Linked DNA regions of Homo sapiens. The protein of the gene in region 2 interacts with the protein of the main gene of each other region in a pairwise test. Each region holds a gene or a part of one and is shown on either strand. Other genes may lie near its edges.

Evidence for each region.
Region 1: the proteins of MANBAL (region 2) and CACNA1A interact in a two-hybrid assay, tested with the Homo sapiens proteins (one study listed by BioGRID and IntAct).
Region 3: the proteins of MANBAL (region 2) and SCRG1 interact in binary tests that used the Homo sapiens proteins (3 or more experiments, as listed by UniProt).

Annotation. Positions count from the first base shown.
Region 1 is NC_000019.10:13,502,749-13,511,371, forward strand, and holds the start of CACNA1A (voltage-dependent P/Q-type calcium channel subunit alpha-1A), read right to left. Parts: upstream 3,732-8,623; 5' UTR 3,477-3,731; coding exon 3,184-3,476; intron 1-3,183.
Region 2 is NC_000020.11:37,298,966-37,306,858, reverse strand, and holds part of MANBAL (protein MANBAL), read right to left. Parts: intron 5,689-7,893; exon of another isoform or gene 5,652-5,688; 5' UTR 5,596-5,651; coding exon 5,446-5,595; intron 4,580-5,445; coding exon of another isoform or gene 4,559-4,579; exon of another isoform or gene 2,298-4,558; intron 1-2,297.
Region 3 is NC_000004.12:173,395,588-173,404,233, forward strand, and holds the start of SCRG1 (scrapie-responsive protein 1 precursor), read right to left. Parts: upstream 3,530-8,646; 5' UTR 3,481-3,529; exon of another isoform or gene 1,755-3,480; intron 1-1,754.

The DNA.
Region 1 (8,623 bases), on a different chromosome or scaffold from region 2:
TTTGACCCACTGAGGGATGAAAGAGGAAGAAATCATAGTGACAAATTGCCCCGAGTGTGGAGAAAGCAAGACTGCATCCTTCACCAGTGTACCATGCCAGAATTTACATTTGGAAGTAGCACTCTTAGGCCCTGTGAGCATACCGACAAGTTCATGGATCATTCACTCACTTCTCTTAAACAAGACAGGGAGGAACCTGCTTTCCATATCGACCTGCAACCCTTAGTCAACACCATTTCCAAATACACATCCCACAACACATGCATCAAAAAGTAGCAGGGGCGATTCCACTCCTATCTAAGAGAACTGTGGGAAAAAAATAATAGAAGACACAAGAATGTTCCCAGTGGCACAAACAGAAATGACACAAATGCCCATCAACAGTAGAATGGATAGATTGTAGTAGAGTCACATACACAGATGTGAGCAAAAGAAGCCAGTGGCAAAAGAACGTACTGTGTGACTCCATTTACATGTTTAAAAGAGGCAAAATGAACCTTAGAAGTCAGGTGAGCGGTACCCTTGTTGGGGGAGCAACTAGGAGGCGGTATGGGGAGGGGGACTTCCAGGGCACTGATCGGGACCTGGGTGCTGGATACGTGGGTGTGTTCATTTTGTAAAAATCTATGCATCTGAATATATGTACTTGCCTGTACATATATTAGACTTTATTTAAGTACCTACACACTTTTTTTTTCACTCTCAGGATATGCTGAAACATTTTTTTTTAATGGCAGAAATATTTAGATTAAAAAGTAGAATGTTCTGCCCTGGTATCGTGACTCTGACATTCCACGTGTCTTTCTCTTTACACTGGCCTGAATTCTTTTATTCACTACCTCCCTCCCCAGGTCTCTGTCCATCCCCTCTCATCTCCAACCCTCCCACCCACCCCGCCACCGCCCTCCGCTCCATCCAGGACAGAGAAAGCTCAGTCCTGGATGACCCAGCTCGATGACAGATTGTGAGGTGGGGAGTTTTCCCTTCCAGAGTAGGGCTGTATAATGTGTTTGTTACCTCGGGTCAAAGAGAACAAAAACAGTCTGCAGAGAGCATAATGCACAAACTCATCATAAGAGCAAGAAAGCCCCGGGCGAGCTGGCCAGAGAATAGATGAAGTGGCAAGCAACACTCGCAATTCACCTGCCTCCCTCTCCCACGATTCCCCCTTCCGAGGGGCCACTGCAATCCCCCTCTCCCCCAACAGCCCTCCAATCTGCAGGATTCAGGCTGGACAGAGGTAAGCTAAGGACACAGCAGAAGGGCTCCCCACCTCCTTCCTTTCCTCTTAGAAGTCTCCAAATCCAGGCTCCAGAAGGCGATCTAAAGCCATTTTCAATGAGGAAACCTGTCAGCCGAGCAAAGCCCTCTCACTCCTGGAGCTAACTGGGTGTGCACCCATGAATACCCTGTCCTCCTGCAAGGCACTCCCACTCCTCACTCTGTTGATAGGCAGAGTAATCAAGCCACCCCTGAGCACTTCAATGGGCCTGGGATGGTGAGGAATTGCTAACCTTAAGAACCAGCCTCTTTAAGAGTCTGAAACTTAGGAAGCAAAGACCTGGCACCTGCTTTGGGCACCAACGGAGATGGCATCGTAGTTAGAGGTATGCTCCCCTCAAAAGCACCTCTGCTGAACTTCTTAATTTTCCCCACCCTCAAAGTAGACCACTCACACACTCCAAAACCTCAGTGCCCTCTGTTGCAATCCCAGCACCCAGGATCCAAGCGCCAGGCTCGATTTTGAACCCCCCTGAAGTGAGTCCCTCTACCACCCGCCATGCTCCTCAAACAGCAACCCCCGGAGACCACACAGGGCCCAGCCCCGTTTAGTCTATAACTGCAAAACCACATACAAAAGGGATAGGGGACTCATCGCTGAGCCCCAGGGACCCATCCAGCCCGTTCATTTTTACACAGAGGGCAGCTGGTTGGAACTGTGCGGAGAAGCGGCACATCTGGGCATGGCACAGTGGCCAGCCAGCCTGGGCAGCAGGGTGTGTCCCCCCTCCTGGAATCTGGGTCATGCTTAGATAACTGCTAGAAAGCCCGACTAATTACCCACCCTTGCCTGCCTACATCTCGATAGATGTTAAGCCCTCCTCAAGGTTTATTTCAAGCAGGCAGGGATTTAAAGAAACACAGAAGATCTGCATTTTGATAGCATCTCCACAGAAGAAAATGTGGGCTTCACCTTTTTCCTCTGGATCTTTGATTAAAAAAAAAAAAATTTAAAAGGCATTTACCTACCTAAGATGTCCACATGGGTGCTGATTCTCCTGGTGTTCCCTCTCGGCTACTCGGGGTAGGAAAAGCTGGACATGGTGCTCTAAAATGGACCCACCACCTCATTTGCTGTTGCCCTGTCTTTCTTACTGAAAGTGTCCAGATCAGGTCTTCCCAGGCCAGGGGCCCAGATAAAGCAAGTGGGATCTCTTTCTCGACACCCCCAAAGATGATGAGGTTCCCCAATCAGCGGTTAAAGGCAATGGGACCTGCACACATGAGGGAAACATAAGCGCCCCCCAGCCCATCACTATCCTCTCCAGATAGGAACAGCGGCCCACCCTGGGGTACTCACTTCGGCCAGTGCTGGCTTCTCAGTGTGAAGGCCACATGGACTCCCTCTTGCTCTTAGCCCTGGGAGCCCCCAAGCGCCCTGCCCTAAAAGTGCGGCGGCCCCCCACCTTGGGGAAAGCAGTAGTGGAGAGGCTGTCCAGCTTCCCCTGCGTGGACTCCAGTGAGCGACGGCCAAGAAAACCCAACCAAGGCCCCCATAGTTCCCCTGCCCTGGCCAGAAGCGCCCAGGCCCGAGCCCGCTCCAAGCTCACTCCGTAGAACTCCAAACCCTCCGGACTTGGCTCGAAAGCCCCCACCAAGGCTCCTGCACGACCCCAGGCCCCAGATCTCATTCTAGAGTCGGTCCTTGGGAAGGATCCACTCTCCGCTGCCCACCCCCCAGCCCCCCACAAACCCATTCCCAAGCCTCCAGGGTAGCTCAACCCAGCTCGGGGTGGAGAGATTCTTTCACACTCCTCCCGGTGCCCCCTCTCCCAGCCCCTGGAAGACCCCCCTCCTCCCCACCTCCCATCAACCCCCGGGTCTCTCTCCCAGCCTGGAAGAGGGGAGGCGGAGGGAGGAGGGGGAGGCGCAGCTGCTGCTGGGGTTCGGGCAAAAGGATATGGCCATTCGGTGATCTTTTTGGCGTATTTTCTCACCACGTTGTCTTCGCTGAAGAGGAAGAGAGACCGGTTAACCGTGAGGCAGTTCTGTCGGACGGGGATGGGGTTGTAGAGTGCCATGGTCCGCGCTCTCTGCGCCATTGACTGCTTGTACATCCTTTGCGCCCCGGGCTGCCCGCCCTGCCGGCTGCCCCCGGCTCCTCGCCCGCCTCCGCTGCCCACGACCACCCCGGCGGCTGCCCCGGAGCCTCCTCCCCCGTAGCGGGCCGGCATCTCGTCTCCGAAGCGGGCCATTCTGCAAAGAGCAAAGGGCTCCGGGTTACGCTGCGGCGAACGATGCGGAAGACGCCGCCGCCGCCGCCGCCGCCGCTGATGCTGAGGCTGCCGGGGCTGGGAGCGCGGCGGCTGGAGCTACGACTGCGGAGACGCTCCACGGCCCAGCCCATCGGGCGGCGGCGGCTCGGCGCCTCGGGTCGGGGGCTCAGAAGGCGGCTGCCCGGGCCGAGCCGGGGATAGCAGCTCGGGACATCTTCCTGGCTGACCCCGGAGAAGGAGGGGCGGGAGGAGGGTGCGGGGGCGGGGCGCGGGGGCCCGGGGAGGAGGGGGGAGGGGAGAGAGAAGCGAGGCAAAAAATAACCGAGGAAGGAATCCAGGCAATCCCCAGTCCACCCACTCCGGAAAAAAAAAAAAAGAGACAGTTAAAAAAAAAAAATCCACCCAACGCACACCCCCTTTAAGACGCGAACGGTTTGCAAAGGACGCCCCCCCCGGGACGCAGTGGAAGCTTCAAATTCCTCCGAGGTCCGGGTCAGGCTGGCATCTTGCAAAAGGAGTGCGCTCGGCCCATTAAAAAAAAATAAAAAATAAAAAATAAAAAAATATATATATATTTAAAAATAAAGAAAGACGAAACCCAGGTCTGGGTGGGGAGGGCAAAAAAAAAAAAAAAAAAAATTAAGTGCCCTTCTGTTTTGCTGGAGTTCCTAGACCTTAAAAATGCTGAAAGATCTGTAGCTCCAAAAATAAAATAAAATAAAAACAAAGAAGATGAAAGGGAAGGGAAAGAGGAGGGAAGGGGAGTAAGACGCTCCAGAGGGTTCCTAAGGAGTCTTCACACCGCAGGGTCCAGGTTTAAAAAAAAAAAAAAAAATTTTTTTTCTTCCTGAATCACCAACGGCTGCCTCTTCTGCTCCCGGAGGAAGTGTGAGTGTGTATGTGCGCACAGCGTTTCGCTCAATGGTGCCTCATCTTGGGGTTAAATTGCAGCAGTGAAATCCTGAAAATTCCCAACAGGGGGAAAAGAGAGAGAGAGAGAGGTATGCGCCCTCCGCTTAGCCACTCAATAGCTGCCCCTGGATGCGGCAATGCCTCTCCACCCTCCAAATCCCTCCACCTCCTCCTTCTCTAGGTTTTGCTAAAATAAGACTGGTGTGGAGGGTTGCGGGTAGAAGAAGGTAAAGAGGAAAAAAAAATGGGCGCAAAGGTCTGAACCACTGGCCAGCAAACGGAAAAGGGGAGCAATTGATGAGTTTAACAGTAGAAGGACCCACCCAGAGTGTCGACACATGAGGGCCCGCGACCAATCGTGGAGGCTCGTGGAGGCGCGGGGGTACCGGGCTCAGCGGAGTTTGTGGGGGAGAGAGGGGAGCGTCGCATGGTTGGGAGGCAGGGAGGGGGGAATTGGGGTGCTTCCTCCTCCCCTGGGAGGAAAGCCTGTTTTCCACCCCGTTCCATTTCGGTTGCAGACAGCCGGACGCTCCCCAGCATCTTGCAAGGAGAAGGCAGGATGGAGGCAGGAAAAAAACTTAAAAGACAGAAAAGAGAAGGGGATTTGTGTCTAGAGGTGCGATTCGTCAGTCTCTAAACAAATTTGCTCTGTTTAGCAAAAGACCATTTTTGAAAGTGGAGAGAGTGGTTTGGGGTTACTTCTGTGAACGTTTCAAATCACAAGGACTCCTGCAAGTTGGAATTAAAGGTTTATTCTACCTTGGAGACCCCAGAGGTGACAAGTCTGAACTCCCAGGAGGAAATAATTAACCAGGTCCTAGTTGGCTGGATAGGGGTTCTGGGTGGTATAGTTTGCTTGATACTCACGTCTCTCCAGAACCACTTTGATTACTTCCCATTCTGCTTTTTGTGTGGTGAAATTCAATAAGCACAAAGAAAAATGCATAAAACATAAAGGTACGGAGTTAAGAAATTGGTCTGAAATGAACACTCATGAAATCAAGTCTAGGGCTAGAAATGGAACATCACCACCTCTGCAGAACCCCCTTTGCCAACACGCTTACACAGCCCCTTATTCCAGCAATAATCGCTACCTGACTTTATGGTATTCATATCTTGCTTTTTTAAAAAAAGTTTGACTACCTTATTATGCGTTCCTAACCAATACAATTTTACTTTGCTTCTTTTGGGCTTTTATATAAATGGAATAATCATATAGTATATATTCTACAGTTTCTTGTTTCTTCGGTTCAACATTATGTCTTTAAGATTCATCTGGCAGGGCACGGTGTCTGCGCCTGTAATCCCAGCACTTTGGGAGGCAGAGCATGAGGATTGCTTGAGGCCAGGGGTTTGAGACAAGCCTGGGCAATATAGCAAGACCCTGTCTCTCCAAAAACCTTTTTTAAAATAAAAATTAACCAGGCATGGTGATGTGAACCTAGTCCCAGCTACTTAGGAGGCTGAGATGGGAAGATCCCTTGAGTCCAGGATGTTGCAGTGAGCCAAGATCAAACCACTGCCCTCCAGCCTGGGCAACAAAGTGAGACTCTGTCAAACAAAACAAAACAAAACAAAAACAAACAAACAAAAAAAACAAGATTCATACATCCTAATCTGTTTCGAATTTTAGAAAAATTCACCTGTTTGTTGTCACACATGGCTGTGATTCATTCACTTTCACTGCTGTATAGTATTTCATCAAGAGAATATGCCACAATTTGTTTATCCATCATCTTGTTGATGGGTATCTGTTTTTTTTCCAGTTGGGGCTATTAAACATTACTGCCTCAGGTACCTTTGGTGCAGATAAGAATGCATGTCTCTAGGAATAGCCTTAGGTGTGGAATGTCTGGGTCCACAAGGTATTCATATCTTCAAGCTTATAAGATGTCATCAAACTGTCTTGCAAATTCAATGTACCAAGAAACCATTGAATTTTCATGGAGCTTGTATACGCAGAAAGGCCAAATGGAGAGGAATGGGAAAAGGATGAAAAAGGCAAATATTCTTTCAAGCCTTAGCTAGTTAAATCCTAGTTAATTCCCTTCCCCCCTCGCCACCCCACACACACATATCAATATTCGAGTTCTTTTGGAACACTCTGGAAAGATGATATGTCTTTATATAAAGTCCCCGTTCTGTGCCAATGCACCAACTATTATACATTGCCCCATAGCACTTTCAAGATTTTCTAACTTGTCACGATATGGATGAAATGATTAAACCAAGAGTGATTGGAATTGCAAGGAGATAGAATTGTGTGGGATTCAGGGAGAAGGAGGGGCTTTTAAGGCGCTCACCAAATATCAGTGATTTTTGTACTTGACATTGTTTCAGATATAAAAGGTGAACAGCAACTAATATGAAACAAGAAGCGAGCCCATGTGTTCAGATGGGAAGAACCAGTCATATGAGAGGAGCTGAGTTGAACTTATCATTTGTTCTGATGGACCTCTCTGAGAAGATTATTCAGTTTTAGAGCAGGAGCATTACCTGCATAGATCTGTGAAGACCCCAGAGTTTTTCAGGAAAGAGTGACATCTCACTGATGGAGCTCCTGCCAGGGTAAATCTCCCACTGAGTCTTCACAGCAGCCCCGTGGAACAGATGCAAACACTGAGGGTGAGGGAGACTTAAAAACTTTCCCAAGGTCACTAACGTGGATCTGAACCCATTTCTGACTCTTGTATTCTGTTGGACAGAGGGGAATTTGGTACAACCACTTTGGAAAACCGTTGGCTGGGTGCAGTGGCTCACATCTGTAATCCTAGTATTTTGGTGGGCAGAGGCAGGAGGACTGCTTGAGCCCAGGAGTTCAAGAGCAGCCTGGGCAACATAGTGAGACCCTGCCTCTACAAAAGGAAGGAAGGAAGGAAGGGAGGGAGGGAGGGAGGGAGGGAGGGGGGAGGGAAAGAAAGAGAGAAAGAAAAGAGAAGAAAGAGAGAAAGAAAAGAAAGAGAAAGAAAGAAAAGAAAAAAGAAAAGAAAAGGTCAGGAAATAAATAAATTAGTTGAGCATGGTGGTGCATGCCTATAGTCCCAGCTACTGGGGAGGCCAAAGTGGGAGGATTGTGTGAGCCCAGGAGTTTGAGGCTGCAATGAGCCAAGATCATGCACTCCAGTGTGGGAGACAGTCAAGTCTCAAAAAACAAACAACGACAACAAACACATAAAAAGAAAAACTTTTTGGTCATTTCTATTAACATGGCCATTTGAGTATCCTATGACCCAACAATGTCACTCCTGGGTATACACCCAGGAGAAATGAGGATATATGCCCTAGAATGTGCAGCACTATTCATACTTGCTAAAAGTTGGAAATTTCCAAAATACCGTAATGGATAAATACACTGTAGAACATGGAATTTTATGCAGCAATAAGAAAGGACAATATGGAGCTACACACAGGTGCATGGATGAATTTTACAAACTCCATGCTGAACCCAAGAAGACAGACACAGAACAGAACATGGTGTATAATTCCTGTTATATAAAGTTTAAAAAAAAATGGTGCACACCTGTAGTCCCAGGTATCCTGATTCCCAGCTACTCTGGAGGCCAAGACAGGAGGATGGCTTGAGCCCAGGAATTCGAGGCTTGCAGTGAGCTACATGATCTGTGCTCCAGCCCGGGCGACAGAGTGAGACCCAATCTCTTCTTTTAAAAAATTAAATAAGTAAATAATAACATTAAAAAATGAGCAACACTGATCACCTTTAGAAGTCAAAGGAGTAGTCGCTTTGAGGGTAAAGGGATACATTCTGGAAGCATCTCCATCTGGGTGACAGTGGCATGGGTGTGCTCACTTTTTAAGTTTTGTTCATTTTGTACCTTTTCACTGAGCTGCACGTGACTGATTTGTGCAGTTTTGTGTGTGCTGCCTACTTAAATAAAAAATATTTGTAGGCTGGGCATGGTGGCTCAAGACTATAATCCCAGCACTTTGGGAGGCCAAGGTGGGCAGATCACCTGAGGCCAGGAGTTCGAGACCAGCCTGGCCAACATGGTAAAACCCTGTCTCTACTTAAAATGCAAAAATTAGCCGGGCATGCTGGTGCATGCCTGTAATCCCAGCTACTCGGGAGGCTGAGGCAAGAGAATCACTTGAATCCAGGAGGCGGAGGTTGCAGTGAGCTGAGATCATGCCACTGCACTCCAACCTGGGTGACAGAGTGAGACTCTGTCTCAAAAAAAAAAAAAAAAATTCGTGAT
Region 2 (7,893 bases):
ATCATTGGCCAGTCCAAGGACCGGCACTGTCATTCTCTAATCCCAGCTCACAGCAAACAGACATCATTGATCAATTTCTTTCCTCCAGAGCAAAGCAGCAGCCCCCAGAATCCTTTTCACCATGGCCACCAAGCAATTGATCAGACTTGGCATGAGAGATGAAACTTACCAGCTAACCTGGACTAGATGGAAATGGTACTAGGACCTACTATCTTCTATTTTAGAATCCAGCCTACAAGAAAATGCTTGGATTAAGTGTGGCCCACGCCTCCATCAGGCTCAAACAAATGTTTGTTTTCTTAGGTCTGAGTTTAATGAGTTGCCAATGAGAAAACCTTTTCATTTGGCTTACGATTCTAGGGACTTGGTTTTTGATTTTACAAATTGACTCTTGCTCCTACTATGAAAAGGAAGGGGGTGGGGTGGGAAGCATTTGTATGTGTTCCCTCTTTTCCTCCCTGATTAACCCCAAAAGAGCTTTCAAATAATCTGCTAAGTATTGAAATACTGAAGTCATAAGCAAGTTGCAAAAAATCGGCTTACTAGAACAGGAAACATTCTTTTGCTTTTCAAAGGCTTTCCCATCATCTGGAGCCAAAAATATTATCTTCTGACCCAAAAAGCCACTAATAAACCCTGTTTCTATAGGCTAAGCAAGAGGGAAGATTTTGCCCTGAGCAAAACGGCAAAGAGGGCAAGACTGTTCTCTGGGTCCTCCCACCCTCACTTCTGCCCCCTCTCCTACCTCCTGCCACCCTCCACTTCCAGGTATCTCCCAACTGCCCTCTGGCTGCCTAGTGTCTTACAAGCTGCCCCCACTCCCATGGGCTCCCTTTCTCCCTAAGAGTACCCCGTCCCCATGTTAAAACCCCCTTCTTTCCCCTCCAAACTCCTTCCAAATCTCAGCTATTAGGGACAACCTCTAAGCAGCACAGTCTCAGCATCCACCCTCTCTTTGTAATCCTGTTTATGCACAGAATGCTGTGTTTCCTTTCTATCTAGTTAGGAGTTTCGGAAGTGAGAAAGGCTGCCTTATGGAGACACACAGAGAGCTAGCGACAGAACCCCCTGTATAACCTGGGGCCATTTGCTCCCCTGATGCGCCAGTAAAAAGTTAGATCAACAGTACTGTATTTTTTTGCTACTGATCCATTGAAAAGCTAAAAAAAAAAAAAAAAAGTTAAAACAGTAAGCTTCAGTTATGAAGACAATTTACTTGTGTGAGCCTTGTTTCCCTAAATGCAAGATTAATAAAAATGAGAGATGTCATGTACTATATTTAAATTTAAAAACATGAGGTTGTTGTCCAAAAGTAACCTCTAAATGGCAGTGGGTAGGGGGGTATGATGGCATATTTTTGAACCCTTCATCAACTCCCTGCCTCAAAAGACTTTAACGCACTATCCCACTGAAAATCTTAAAGAGAACAATAAAGGGGCTCCTTTTCTGAAGTTTGCTGAACTAACCCAGGCTTCTGTGGCTTACTTCTAAGGGCTTCAAACACAACAGGAGGTGAGCAGCCTCCCTGCTCTCCAAACAGCCACACACCTCTGCCTATAAAACAAGAAGGCTCATCACCTCCCTCCCTCGGGACTCTTAGCAGGCCTCATCAGCCACCAACAACCACATTTGTTATTTATAATACCGAATAGCATGCCACGTCTGCAGGGACAGAGCCCAGGAGCACAGAGGTGATGTTTTTAAAATGCGATACAATTGTGGGTGGAAGAACGCCAATAGTGATCTCCTTCTCAAGATACCAGAATAAGAGATGGACAAGACAACCTAGAGGCCACGAACCCATCCCTGTTCACCAAGGTTTTCCCACCCTTGCTGGCTGCTCCTCCCCTGCCTGTGCCCTCTATGCTGGAGCCCCTCCAGCTCTGGCCTAGGTCCTCTTCTCATCTCCCTCCACATTCTCTCCTTAGGAGACCCTGTCCCCTGCCGTGGCTTCAAATGACATCGTATCAACTCCCACATGCTGGTCAACACTCAGCCCATGCACTCCTCCTGCTAGAGACCTTGTAAATCCACCGGCTTTTTTGACAGAACCACCCAGACATGTTAAAGTATCTGTTTAAAACTGAACTTGGCATGTTCCTTCCCTGCACCCACCCTAAGCCTGTTCCTTCACCATAGTTCTCCACTGCATCAATAGGTTCCACATTGTATCAGTAATTCCCCATCATCCTCCCAGCTACAGAAGCAGCATCTCCAGGAACAGTGATATCCAAGATATATGGATCTCCAGAACATATTGCGTATGTTAAGTGAAAAAAGAAAGTTGCAAAACTGTGTTTAATAGTATGCTATCTTTTATTTAATGAAGGGGGGAATATAAATATATATGTACACACCATACACATATATATGCATTTGTTACTGTTTTCAAAAAGAAACAAAGGAAAGATAAACTAATAACAACTGTTAACTATGTGGGAAGGAAGGGAATAGGGTGGAGGAGAATGAGATTAAAGGAAACTTCTGTAAATGTACCTTGTTATATAGTTTTGACTTTGAGAAATATTGTATATAAATGTTTTATATAATTAAAACAACAAATTAAATCAAAATTTTAAAAATCTCTAAAAATTAAAAACAGATTGAAGCAAATTAACCAAACTATATCTCATGATGGGAGACCTACACAGAGAAAAATAGTTACTAAACACAACATTTTGACCTTGTATCTCCACAAAGACATATTTTAAGGCCAAAAAAGAATCACAAAGAAGTCTTAAATTTCATTCTGAGTCTTAGTAGTAAAAAATATAGTTATTTTAAAAGTGTAACTGGTATATTGTAGATGAGCAGAATAAAGTTAATATAAATTGCTAATCTTAGAGAAGCATGCTTGCAAGGTTGGCCCTTGACTGGCATCTGGGAACTTGGATTCCAGGTGGTTCTCACAATTCCCAGAAATGATAAGAGTGGCTCACCACGCCTATACTGTGTAAACAATAAGGTTCATGCTGAACACCTGCTTGCTTTCTGGAAGTCTGGAATTTTGGTACATGCTAGGCCAAGGGTGCTTCTGTAACCAGTCCTCAGTAAGAGATGTGGGCACTGAGTCTCTAACTCACTTCCCTGCTAGATAACACTTCACACACATTGCCACAAATCCTTCCTGTGGGTATCCAATGGGAGAGCACTCAGACGCCTGCGCCTGTTTCCTCCAGTCTCTGCCCCATGTACCTTTTCCCTGTGCCGCCATACCTGGTATCCTTTCACTGCCACAGCTGAGAGTCCTAGTGCATCACTGAACCTGGGGTGGTCCTGGGGACCTCAGATTCAGTAGGATCTAGCAGATACATCATTTTGTTAATGTTATTGAGAACAAGATTTCCAGCATAAGATAAAGAGTTACAAGACACTAGTATAAAATCAAATAAATAGAAACACTATCACCTTACATTTGAATTGGAAATACCAGTATGAACTCACAACTTTTTCATTTCTTAAAAAATGTTTATTTTCTATTTCTGTTTATTGAAAGGCCTAGATGCAATCACAGCTCAGTAGCACTGAAAACTTCTAATGTCCCAACTGTAGCCTCTAGATACTATTTTCTAGCTAAAAAGAACCAGAGCATTTTAGAGAAATGACTGATTCCAAGACTGGGGCAGGAAATGTACAAAATGAGCCTGGGGCCAGGCGCAGTGGCTCATGCCTATAATTCCAGCACTTTGGGAGCTCAAGGCAAGTGGATGGCTTGAGCCCAAGAGTTTGTGACCAGCCTGGGCAACATGGCAAAACCGTGTCTCTACTAAAAATACAAAAATTAGCCAGCCATGGTGGCACACCTGTAGTCCCAGCTACTTGGGAGGCTGAAGCAGGAGAATTGCTTGAACTTGGGAGACAGAGATTGCAGTGAGCTGTGATTGTGCCACTGCACTCCAGCCTGGGCAACAGACAAGACCCTGTCTCGCACACACACAAAAAAGAGCCTGTGACATCTTATTGAACCATGAAGCAAGGAAGCTATCAAAGACTAATGAAGTATGACAAAGAACAAAGACATCAACTTAAAGGGGCTCCCACTGAACATAAAAAACAAATTAATGGCAGATAAGTGCCCTCAAAAAAAAAAAACTAAAACATATTAAATATATTAAAAATATGTTCAGAATGCTATGAAAACCAAAGCTTCATTGGTCATCATTGGAAGTTGCTAGAGTCTGAACTCACAACTTTGAAAATTGATAAATAAAGGGAAAGAACCAAGCATTTTTCCTGCTTTTCATTATGAAGAGCAATTCAGAGTAATCATACAAGTGATAAGGAAAAGGTCTTTGTTAAAGAATTCCAGCTAACAGATGCAGAAGGAAATAATGGATCTAAGCAACGACCATCAATGGATGCTAAAACCGCTTAGGTGAAAGACTGACCGGATTTTTATAATGGAGGGATCAGCTGATACCACCTAAACCCACCGATCAATCCAAGAATCTCTAAATGTGCAGCAGCCAGACACCACCTGCTTGTTGATGCCACACAGTAGGGAGTACATAGCACCAGCTCTGAGGTATTCGTACCCAATAACCTGACTGGAATGGAATCAGGCCTCTACATGGAACTCCTGTTGACAGGAAACACAGGGAACAGAGAAACACGTTAAATGACACCACAGAGAAGCAATAGCCAATTCCTGGGATGTAGGTATCCCACATGACAAACGACCTGCTTTCTCCAATAAATCAATGTCACGAGCAAATGGGAGTGGGCAAGAAAGTGGGTAGAAGGAGGGTGTATAGTTATAAAGATACTTACAGAAGAAGAGTCAAAACAACAACAAAAAAGCCAATTTGACCATGTCATTCTCACACTTAAAACCCTCTGGCCCCTGCCCACACCTCTGGCTGCACCACTCATCATGCCCCCTCTGTGCTCTGGCCACAGTCACCTTCATTCAGTTCCTTGAATTAGCCCCTTCCTTTATTGAGTCCCTTGCACGTGCAGTGCCCTCTCCCTGGAATGTTGTCCTCGCCCCTTGCCCACTTTCACCTGGCAGAAGCCTGCTCATTCCTTCAGTCTCAGCTCAAACACTGCCTCCTCGGCAGGGCCCACAGCCCAGGGTAAGATCAGGTCTCTCTCCCCCTTGTTATATAGCCTCACTGGACTCTGTACTTCTCATGGGAGCACATGGAGGTATGTTTTTGTTATCTGCCTTCCTCCCAAGGACTAGATGCTCCTCAGGTGCAGACACTACATCTTCAGCAGAGTCTGAAATGTAGTAGGCACTAAATAAAAATCTCCTTAATGGGTACATGAACAAATAAAGTATTAGCTATGTGGTTCAACCCACCAGGTGGAAATTCAGAGGCACACTAAATCAAAAAGGCCCAATGTAGACCCTGCTGATCTCAGTTGTGGTGGCACCTACTGTTAGTACTCAGAACCCAGCCTGGCACTCAGAGGAGCTGAGGCTCCCAGGGAAAAACTCACCGCCTCGTGGGACTTGGGAATGGGTACGATGATGGCCAGCACACAGATGAGCTGGAAGATGGCTCCCAGGAAGAGTCCGTACCGTAGCAGGTTCTCCAGGAAAGTGGGCTCGGGCACCTCCGGAGGTGAGAAGTCTAGGTCAGAGGCCATGGCCCAAGTCGCTTGCTGCCTGACGTCTCTTCTGACTCACCACTCTTTAGAACCAACTTGTAAATGCAAAGGGTCAGTGTCATATTTCTGTAACTGACATTTATTTATTTATTTATTTATTTATTTATGAGATGGAGTCTCACTCTGTCGCCCAGGCTGGAGTGCAATGGCATGATCACTGCAACTTCGGCCTCCTGGGTTCAAGTGATTCTCTTGCCTTGGCCTCCCGAGTAGCTGGGATTACAGGTGTGGGCCAACACACCTGGATGATTTTTGTATTTTTAGTAGAGACAGGGTTTCACCACGTTGGCCACGCTGGTCTTGAACTCCTGACCTCAGGTGATCTGCCCGCCTCAGCCTCCCAAAGTGCTGGGATTGCAGGTGTGAGCCACCTCACCCAGCCTGTAACTGACTTTTAACTTGAACACACACACACACACCCAAGAATATATACAGGAATTGTGAAATGTTAACAACTCTTGAATCTAAGTTGGGAACATATGGTCAGTCAATGAACCATTCTTTCAACTTTTCTGTGTATCTGATGTTTTCCAAACATAAAGTTGAGAAAAATAAATAAATGCAAAGGGAAGCACTTCAACAAAAATCTCAAATCAACATACATTTACTAAAGGCTGCTACGTTTCAGGTTTTGTTGTTTATTTATTCATGTAGTCATCCATTCAACAAATATTTCTTGAATACCAAGCACTGAAGAATGAGCAAAACAGACAAACCCCTGCTTTCTTGGAGCCTCTACATGCTCAGGATGGAAGCAGACAATGAACACGTCGAGATGTGATATGCCAGGTAGTGATAAGCATTTTGGAAAAAACTTAAGGGCATCATTTTATTTTGTGATGAGAAGGCTCTCTCTGAAGAACAGAGACGGGAATGGAGTGGAAGAGATAAGAAGTGAGAGAGGGAGCCATTTGTGTATCTGAGGGAAACACGTTCCAGGCAGGGAAAAAAGCAAGTGTGGAGGCCCCAGGGTGGGGAAATGAGGCCAGTACAGGCAGAGAAGTGATCAGGAGGGAGGGTGGAAGGAGGTATGATCAGAGAGGAGTGGGGGCGGACCCTGATACCTCCAATTTGATTGAGTAAAATGTAAAGCCACTGAAGGGTTTTGAGCAGAAAAGTGACATGATCTGACTTCCATTTTTAAATGGAGGAGGGACAACAAGGGGAGAGGCAAAGTGGACACAGGGAGAGCCAGGAGGAGGCCCCTGCCAATAAGCCAGACAAGAGCTGCTGATGGCGTGAATGACAGGGGCAGTGGTGGCCAGTGGTGCAAGGTCCAGCCTCAGCCCAGCTCTCCAGCCTCTCCTCTCAGCAGGGCCCCCACTCCTAATATCCTAGTCAAGCTGAAAGAACTGCTGTGGTTCTCCAAGAGCACTGGGCTCTTTCAAAATCCTGGGCCTCTGCCCAAGCTGCATACTCTGCAAAGAATGTCCTTTCCCACTGTGACTGCTTGACAAAGCCCCCACTCTGCCTCTAAGGCTGAGCTCAAGTGTCATCTCCCCAACATGCCTCTCCTGTCACCCTCCTCTTCCCCTGGCATGACTGAACTGCTCCCCCTTTACCACAGCACCCATCAGTGGCTTTCTTCTGCCCATCCCAATGATAAAGGGGCAAATTTACTTTGGAACCAGGCCCACTTGAATCTAAAACCCTTTGTGTTTCCAGAGATCTGTGCCACAATGCAATATTTTGCTAAGTCTGAGCTATCCAATATGGTGGCCATGAGCCACACATGACTATTAAGACTTGAAACGCAGCTAGTTTGAATTGAGATGCTAATTACACACCCATTTTCAAAGACCTAGTATGAAAATAAGAATGTAATCTATCTCATTCATAATGTTTTCATATTGATTACATGCTGAAACGATTGCAGTGGCTCACGCCTATAATCTCAGCACTTTGGGAGGCCACGGTGGGCAGATCACTTGAGCTCAGGAGTTTGAGACCAGCCTGGACAACACAGCGAGACCCCATCTCTACAAAAAAAATAATAAATTAGGCAGGAGTGGTGGCTCACTCCTGTATTCCCAGCTACTCGAGAGGCTGAGGTGGGAGGATCACTTGAGCCCAGGAGCTTAAGGCAGTGAGCCACGATCACGCCACTGCACTCCAGCCTGGGTGACAGAGCGAGACCCTGCCCCCACCCGACCCTGCCCCCACCCCACCCTGCCACCAAAAAATACACGTAAAAAATAATTGGCTGGGCATGGTGGGTTACGCCCAAAGTGTAAGCCCAACACTTTGACAGGCCAAGGCAGAAGCATCACTTGAACC
Region 3 (8,646 bases), on a different chromosome or scaffold from region 2:
AAACCTCACACTCATATCTTCTAAGAATCCTTCCCTGATTTCAGACAATACTACTCTCATAGCTCCCTTGCTCTATGTTCCCAAAGCACTTATATATAATCTGGCCTACAAGAACTGTGAATTTGAGTAAATAATGCCTTGTCATTGTCAGCATTTTTATAAGCTGGTTAACCATTTGGAGAATATGACTACAATTGGATATGGGGAGTGGGAAATTCATAGAGCTGATTAATTATTTAGTGAATTGGTTATTATGTGAATTTACCTACAGCCAAGAAGGAAGATTGGGAACAATCATAAAGGGCCTAGAAGATATGATAAAGAGTTTAGATTTTATTGAGTATATTAAGAAGCCATTGGAAGATTTTGACAGAACAGTAGCATGATCTGATTTATGCCTTTTTAAAAAAATCCCTGGCTGGCCTGTGAAGATGTATTGTGGTGGGACAAGATTGGAAATAGAAGAAAACAGGCTTTTGGTGAGAACTGATGGGATATATGAAGCAAGAGGGAAAGAATCAAGGATGACTCTTGGGCTTTTGGCTTGAATGGTGTTGTCATTTGTTGAACTGAGGAAGAATTGGAAGGAGCCAATTTTGGGGGGAATCCAGAAATGAGTTTTTAGACAAGTTAGGTTTGAGATGCCTGTTAGATATTAAAGTGAAGATGTTGAGTAGGCAGTTGAATGTGAGTCTAAAGATCAGGGGTGAAAATACAAATTTGAGAGTAATCAGGATATTTATTGATAGTATCTATAGCTATGGGTCTGGCAGGGCAGTAAAGGTAGATCCAGAAGAGATGAGGCAAAGGGCTGAGGCCCAGGGCAATTCAATATTCAGAGGACTAGAAGAGGAGATGCCAGCATCAAGGCAGCAAGGACTGTAACTTCTACTTCTTTTGTATTGAAGCAGAGTGCCTGCTTCAATGCTGAGCTCACAGTAAGTGTTGAAAAAATTTCCTTCAGTGAAATGAACAAATAAATTGCTGGTAAAATAAGTAAGTAAATTGCCATACCACATACCTCTTCTGTGTTCATGCCAGAGCATAAGATCATTTTTTTGCCACAGTCTAAGTCGCATACTACAATGGAAAGTTCCACACCTAGCAAGTACCTACTGGTAGTTTTGTGTGTGTGTGTGTGTGTGTGTGTGTGTGTGTGTGTATGCATTATAAATTACATGTTTTGGCCCAGCACAGTGGCTCACACCTGTAATCCCAGCACTCTGGGAGGCCGAGGCGGGCAGATCACGAGGTCAAGAGATTGAGACCATGTTGGCCAACATGGTGAAACCCCATCTCTACTAAAAATACAAAAATTAGCTGAGAGTGGTGTCATGTGACTGTAGTCCCAGCTACTCAGGAGGCTGAGGCAGGAGAATCACTTGAACCGCGGAGGCAGAGGTTGCAGTGAGCCGAGATTGCACCACTGCACTCCAGCCTGCGCGATGGAGCCAGACTCCGTCTCAAAAAAATGAAATAAAATAAAACAAAATAAAATAAAATAAATTACATGTCTTAAATGCAGACTTCTCTTCTTCCTTTACTTAAGTACAGATAAATAGCTTTAACTATTATTTAGCAAATGGAAAAATTTCTGACCCAGTGTGTTCCTGGGATACATTGGTTGTTGTTTCATTAAAGGATACCAAACTTAATCCTTGGCAATCCATCAAAACCATATATGTTCAAGTGCCAACAAGAGTGAAATGATTTTGGCCAATTTGAAGAAAATTGGTCTTTTTTTTTTCTTTTTCAGTTGAGGTACATGTACTTAAAATCCCTCCTGGAATACACCCAAATTACAAAAGAAAACAAAGTTACCTACTAAAAATTAGAAGGAGTGAGCAAGAGAAGCTTAGGTAGTTATCCATTTTTTTAATTCGATTTTATGTAATTAACATTGTTCCAAATGTTGTATGATACCATTTATATCCTAATAGTGTTGTAAGTTTTAATAGATCATTGCAGAGGATACAGGATTATGAGCAAGACATTTCCAACTAAACAATAAATCATTGCTACCATCCTTTGGTAGGGAGTTGCAAATTTTGATTCTGTCTGAGGGCATTTAGCACAAGCAAGCTTTTGAATGGCTGGAGCTAAATGGAGACTTAAAAAGAAAAATTATCCCATTTAATTGCCAAAACTAACAGGACCATGCAGTTTAAGTGTTCAGACATTTATGGTGCAAATGCTCATACAGGCAGCTGATGTCAGTTCTGGGAACTGGTATTAAGAGCAGTGGCATGAAACAGAGTTGATGAATTAGACAGAAAAGACAGTCCATTTTCGGATTGCTTTCAAAAAAGCAGCAAGAGAGAAGCAAAGCTGCAAAAGCAAATGAAAACTCCAGCCCAGAACTTGACATTTGAAATATCAAAATTATAGTTGGGAGAGATTAAAATTGCTGCCCAGTCTGTGATGTTTTCCACTCATCTCTCTTGGAGGATGAAAATCACTGTTTTTTTAAAGTTCTCTTTTTTTCTTATTAGCTGCCTTAGAAGACGTTTTTGTTAGAATGACTGAGTCCTTAGAAAATGTTTTTGTTAGAATGACTGAGTCCCAAAGTGAAATTTCCCAAAGTATGTGTTAAAGAACAGAAGCAGTATTAAAAAGTGAATAAGCTGCTTAAAGATCCTTAAAACAGACATATCATCTTAAATATCTAAGATACCTTCATCCATAGAAAAACAAAATCCACATCCTCCCTAAAAGTGATCAGGCTTTTAGAGCATGCCAGAAGATGATATTAATATTCAGTCTTGCATCATTCTCCTTCTTTTCCTGGACACAGTAAATCATCATCACTGGAGAAAAGGACCAGCATTTGGGAGAGCTTTTCATAGCCTGTGTAATTAAGTTAAGGAATTTTAAAGAGGAATTTTTCTAAGTCTCAGAGGGAAAAAGTGTTCTCTTTATATTAGCAGTACAGACACTGTTGTGTTCCAAGAATGGACACCAAGGATGAATTCAATGAATTCCCTCTTTGTATCACACATTTGTACCAGGTTCTTTTCAGAAATCAGGATTTTTAAAAGCAAAAAACATTTTCTTTCTTAGATGTTGCAGTTAACTTCATGTAGTGTAGGTAATATAGCTGCTGCATTTAAAACAATCCTATATACTTTATCATCCTCACATAGTTCTGAGGACTGGGATAAGTCCTGTTGTGTGGGACAACATTCAGAGTAAATTTGGGCATTAAATAAATGATAGTGAAGAATCTGCCTCTTTTTAAACCTGTAATGAAATGACTTTCCTAGTCAAGAAATATACATTTTCTGTTCTTTTTTAATCTGATTATTTGCCTTTCTACTAGGAAGCATCATATTTTTCAAAGTGCCTGCATCATCTCCTCAGAGGATCTCTGTCTTTCTCTTCTGACTCAACACATACATACATTTCTGCTCTAATCTACAGTAATACTTTGGAGTAGAACAACTGACATAAGATGTTTTTTATAGAGAAAAAATTACATACCTTTTTCTTCTTTCCTTTTGGTCTTGGCAGAGGATGCTTCTTAAATGCTCACACTCACTGGGTGAGTTTGGGCAAAAGGAGAAGAGAGGAGGTGCTGGAAGGAGCTTCTTTACAAATGAACCTTTGTCTGCCTTGTCTCTGGCCTGGGATCGACAGACTCGCTGCTCCAGCCAGGACTGTGGGGAGGAGGGGAGTGGAAGGAGACAAGGCTGCAAGGACTGCCTCCTTTGGAAGTGTTCAGTTTGTTCCAAACCAGGCGAGAACGAATAGAACAGCTTCTTTACAGAGGGAAATAACTAGTCTATACAAGAACCTCAGGGAGGCAGACTCTGGTAGCAATAAAACATAAAACCTGAGGGATTTTAAAAGAACACAGAGTGATTTTTCCCTTAAGAAAAGTGTGTGTGTGTGTGTGTGTGTGTGTTTGTGTGTCTGTGTGTGAGAGAGAGAGAGAGAGAGAAGAGGAAAGTGGGGAATGGCTAGCTGCGCACCTCTTCCCCTTTCACAGTTTTCCTAGCCATCTAGATCTGTTACAAAATCCTGGTAGAAGATACGTTCCAATTCACCTTCCATTTCTCACCCAAAGACTCATTAGTAGTCAATGGAAAGCTAAAATGATGACTAAAAAGAAATGTATTCTGTGCCTTAGAAATAAAAGCACAAAAGAAATTTTATTCTGTTTTCAGCAAACTATACTGGAATTCTAGCATCTGTTAACTGTTGTTTAGGTTTTTAAAAAATTCGATTAGGAGTAGTGTTTTGGGAATTAGAGATATTATATTGTAATGGAGTTGGAATTATCTAGACAGACAATTGAGGCAAGGGCATTCCAGGTTGAATTACAAAGGCATGAAGGTGAAAAAGAGGGTGACAACTTCGGAGATTATAGGTGGTTTCATTTGGCTAAAACCAAAGGTGGTAGGAGATGAAATTTGAGAGACAAGAAGCAGCAAATTGATGAATTACCTCATATGCCATGCTAAAAAAATTGTTTTTATCGTGAAGATGAATGGAAAGATGATGAAAACATATTAAAAAGGATGAAAAGCCTGACTGCAGTGTGAAAGAAGGATGGTTTCCTGGGAGGAAAGGAGACTAAAGACAGAAAATACCGGCTTTTGCTGTAGTCCAGAAGGGAAGATAGGAAGGAAAACTGAAAAGACCTGATGACCACTTAAGTGTTTATGTTTAGCATAGAGATAGGAAATTTTATTAACTTTCAAAGGCTTGGGCCTTTGGACGATGATACTGTTAATCATCTAGAAAAAGGATATAAAAGGAATAACTGTTATTCATCTAGGAAAAAGAATACAAAAGTTTTGGCTGGAGGAGGAGTGGGAAAATAGAAATGAGTTAGTTGGTGAACGTTGAGTTTAAGGAACCCTAAATACAGTTGAGAATGTTTAGTAGGCAGTTGGTTAAATAGACCTAGAGCTTAGGAAAAAGCCTGGTCTAGAGAATTAGTTCATCAACCAATCAACTCAATATCAAATAATCTCAACTAAATAACTAATGCAGGTATTCAACTAAATGATAGCCGAAGTCATGGTTGTACCACTAAGAAGTTACTGTGCTCTTACTGTGTGCCAGGCATTTCATACGTCTGAACTCGTTCACTCTCCTTCCAACCCTATGAAGTAGGTACTATTATTAGTCCCATTTTATAAACGAGGGGAACATCAGAGATGTCAGGTAACCTGCCCCAAATCACACACACAGCCAGAAAATGGCGAGACCCTGGCAGTGTGTTTCTAGTGTCTTTGTTTCCCACCATTATGCTGTACTGCCCCTTAGAATAGATTATAAAGTTCATGATACGACTGAGAGCAGAATTATTCAAGGAATGGGCAGAGAACTGGGAAGGAAACTGAGAAGAGGTAGCCAAAGAAGTAGGGGAAAATTAGGAGAGTGTCATCATGGAAGTTAAAGGAAGAGTATTTCAAGAGAATGGAGGTGAATGGAAGGCTGCTAATGACAGCAGTGCTGGGAGAACAACACGTGCACACCCTGATATGAAGGTAGGCAGAGCAAAGAGAAGGTCAATACAACCAGAAGCAGTTCCAGCCCTGACAGAGATCAAATCTCTGCTTGGTCTCCATTTCGCTGAAACTGGAGCAAGTGGCATGGACCTCAGGAAGGGAGATGAGAGGTGTGTGCGCAATGGACTGCACATTTCCTTTGCATATTTATAAACAAGTCTGCTGTGATTCTTACTAAATAAAGATGATGCCATACACAGATGGAGTTAATTTGTTTGCATGATTTAAATGTATATAAATATGTGAATATGAGGAGGAAAATGGAAACTAGCCTTTATTCCACTTTAAGAGCTATCCGTCCTGTTTACCTCAGGTAGATCTAAACAGAGGTATGGTGCCAAGGCAAATCAACATTCCCTGTAGATGGATCCTCTCTTTACTCTGTTTTACTCTTATTTCCCTGTGTGTCTAATTCTGTCTAAATTTCCCTTATTGTGTTGCTTATTTTGTCTCCTTGTGTCTGAATTCATAGCTGCTCAAAATAGTTGATTCATTTTTATATTCAGCAACACTGAAATCCATACAATATGCTTGGCATTGTGCTTATGAATGCTGCCTGTAAGTGGTACACAGCAGCTCTTGGTAATGATCTAATCATCTCTGGATCATGTTCTGAGCCACTTAGGAAAGTTTTCCCCTAAGAAGCACATTTGGACCCTGGCCTCCAAATCCCTTGTGTTTTCAAACATGTGTTTATTACTAGCTGGACTTCCTATCATTTCTAGGAAGAATCATTAAACAATATCAAACTTATAATTGCTTGTCATTCATCCTGATGTCCATTACATGGGGATGTCCTTTTGAGAAGGAGTTCAATTCCAAACCAAGGCCTGCAATCACAGAGTCTGCCTTTGTGGTTTTTAATTTGTGGCTCAAATCTGAAACCACTCTTTGTTTTCCTGTAAATGGAGCCTTAAGGCCTTTTAGTTTTCTTTCCTGATGGGCTGTTACTCAGACCTCTTATCGAACCCGCTTTATGTTGCTCTGAAGACCACCTGTTTCTTTGAGACGGCCTCAGGAGCCTCCCAAAGTGAATCTTTTATGTGACATAGAGCTTCTATTTTAAGTAAAACCATCCAAATGTAATGTACAGATTTCCAGAAAATATGTCCAGCTATGTATTTTTATGTGATGATGATGACGATGGTGATGATGATGTGTGTGTTTATTTCTATAGGTATATGTTATCACTCTTAGGTGCAGTCAGGTTTGTTAGAAATAGAAAATCCTCACAAATTAGTGATAAGACCAATTCGTGAGTAGAGAAACATTTTATACAGAATTTAAGCAATTACATTCAAAGTACTGAAATTAAATTTGTAAAGAGACCTAATTAGTATTTCTTTTTAAAAAAAAAAAAACCTCCCAAAATTGAAAAATTGAGAAAAACACCAAAAAACAGCAAAATCCTTCCAATCAGGTGAAGTCTGAAGAGATGTCTCAGATATAAATAATTTCAGATATCAGACATCTTAAGCTTGTGAGAGAAAAAAAATGGAACATGCATTAGTTCTTCCTCTGATGTCCACCTGGGAGCTCATGCATTCACCCTAATTTAGAATCTGCTGCTCCTCTGTTCCATGATTGACCCCTTTCTCTCATTTCCCTCAGGCTTGACTCCTTCTGGGCTCACCAAGGCTGGCAGTATGGGGAGAAGCAGCAGCTGGTTTCGGCCTTCACAGCTCACATCTTCCCAGGAGAGAGGTAGGACTTTTTTTATGTGAGTATCCTTGACAAAAGGAGCCTCAAAATAATTGCACTTATTGAAAACTAACTCACAATATGCTTGTTGAAATGGTGATGAACTGCGACAAAATCACCTCTTAAAACTACCTTTAAAATCTTTCATCAGTTAAAAAGAAACAAGCTATTTTACTAACTTATTTTTGAACTCAGTAAAAGAGTTTCCTCTTTGATTACAACTATATAAAGTTTCCCTTAAGATATCCACTGAACCTTGGACATTTATGCTTAGAATTGTTTTTGAAAGTGGGTTGAACAACATAACCTCTATTACCCAAACTTAGCTTTATGTTGCTGAAGTGAGACTCAGGAAAACAGGTTCTACTGAGGAATCGTCAGTAAGGCCCTTGAAGAGACAGCAGAATCACCAAGTAGCTGTTGTGTAAGAGGGTGAACTGATGCCACCTCCCCTGCAGGGAGAGAAATGCTTCCATGAGGTATTCATATTGGAATGCAATTTCGATGGTATGATGTACTTGGGAATGGCTAGGATTCCCAGATGGGCAACCCTGGCTATAATGGGGATAGCCAGGAGAGTCTTCTTGATCAAATGCTTTTAGTCAGAATATCAAACACAAGCTCTCTTTTCCCTGGGCATAGAGAGTAAGGCACCCACCTTCGTCTGCGCCGCCCCGGGAATGCTGGGCTTTTTAACAGAATTGATACATAGAGACTGTAAGGTTACTCATGTAACCATGAGTAACATGATTTTCAATGCTGCAGAAATAAAGTCAGAAAAATGAACATCAGGAGAGACCTGTGTCCAAGAAAACTATCCACTTTTAGGAGCCCATGGAATAGTTAGAATGAATGGTAATGTTAATATGAAAATAAACTTTGGCAAGAAAAGAGGCCAAGAAGGAAAGGAACATGAAAATAACCTTTTTAGTTTCCTGGCAGTCTCTAAGGGGCATTGGACTGGTCCATGGAATCACAGCCCAGAGCCTAGCAATAATTTTATGATTTATTGGAGACAACCTACTCACTTACCAAACCTAGAAAGATGGAAAGATTGACTAAGTGTGTCAACGTGTATTCTTTCGTAGGTCCTGAGTTATTGCCCTAATCTTCTCAAAGCTGTTTCACAGACACAAGCATCTGGTGAGTTGATAATGTTAATGATAATAGCAATGATACTAGTAATAATAATGCTATTAACTGCATTGCCAAGTGTGCTAAACATTTTGCAAATGTTGTCTTATTTAGTACACGCAACTTACTTACATGAGGTAGTTTCCAGATGGGGGAACTGGGGTTCAAAAAAATTAAGCACTTGGCCAAGATCACACAGCTGATAAGTAGTGGAGCACAAACTGGAAACCAAGACAAAACTGTGCTCTTAGCCTGCTGCCACAATAAATAGCAAAAGAAATAGAATGAGAAA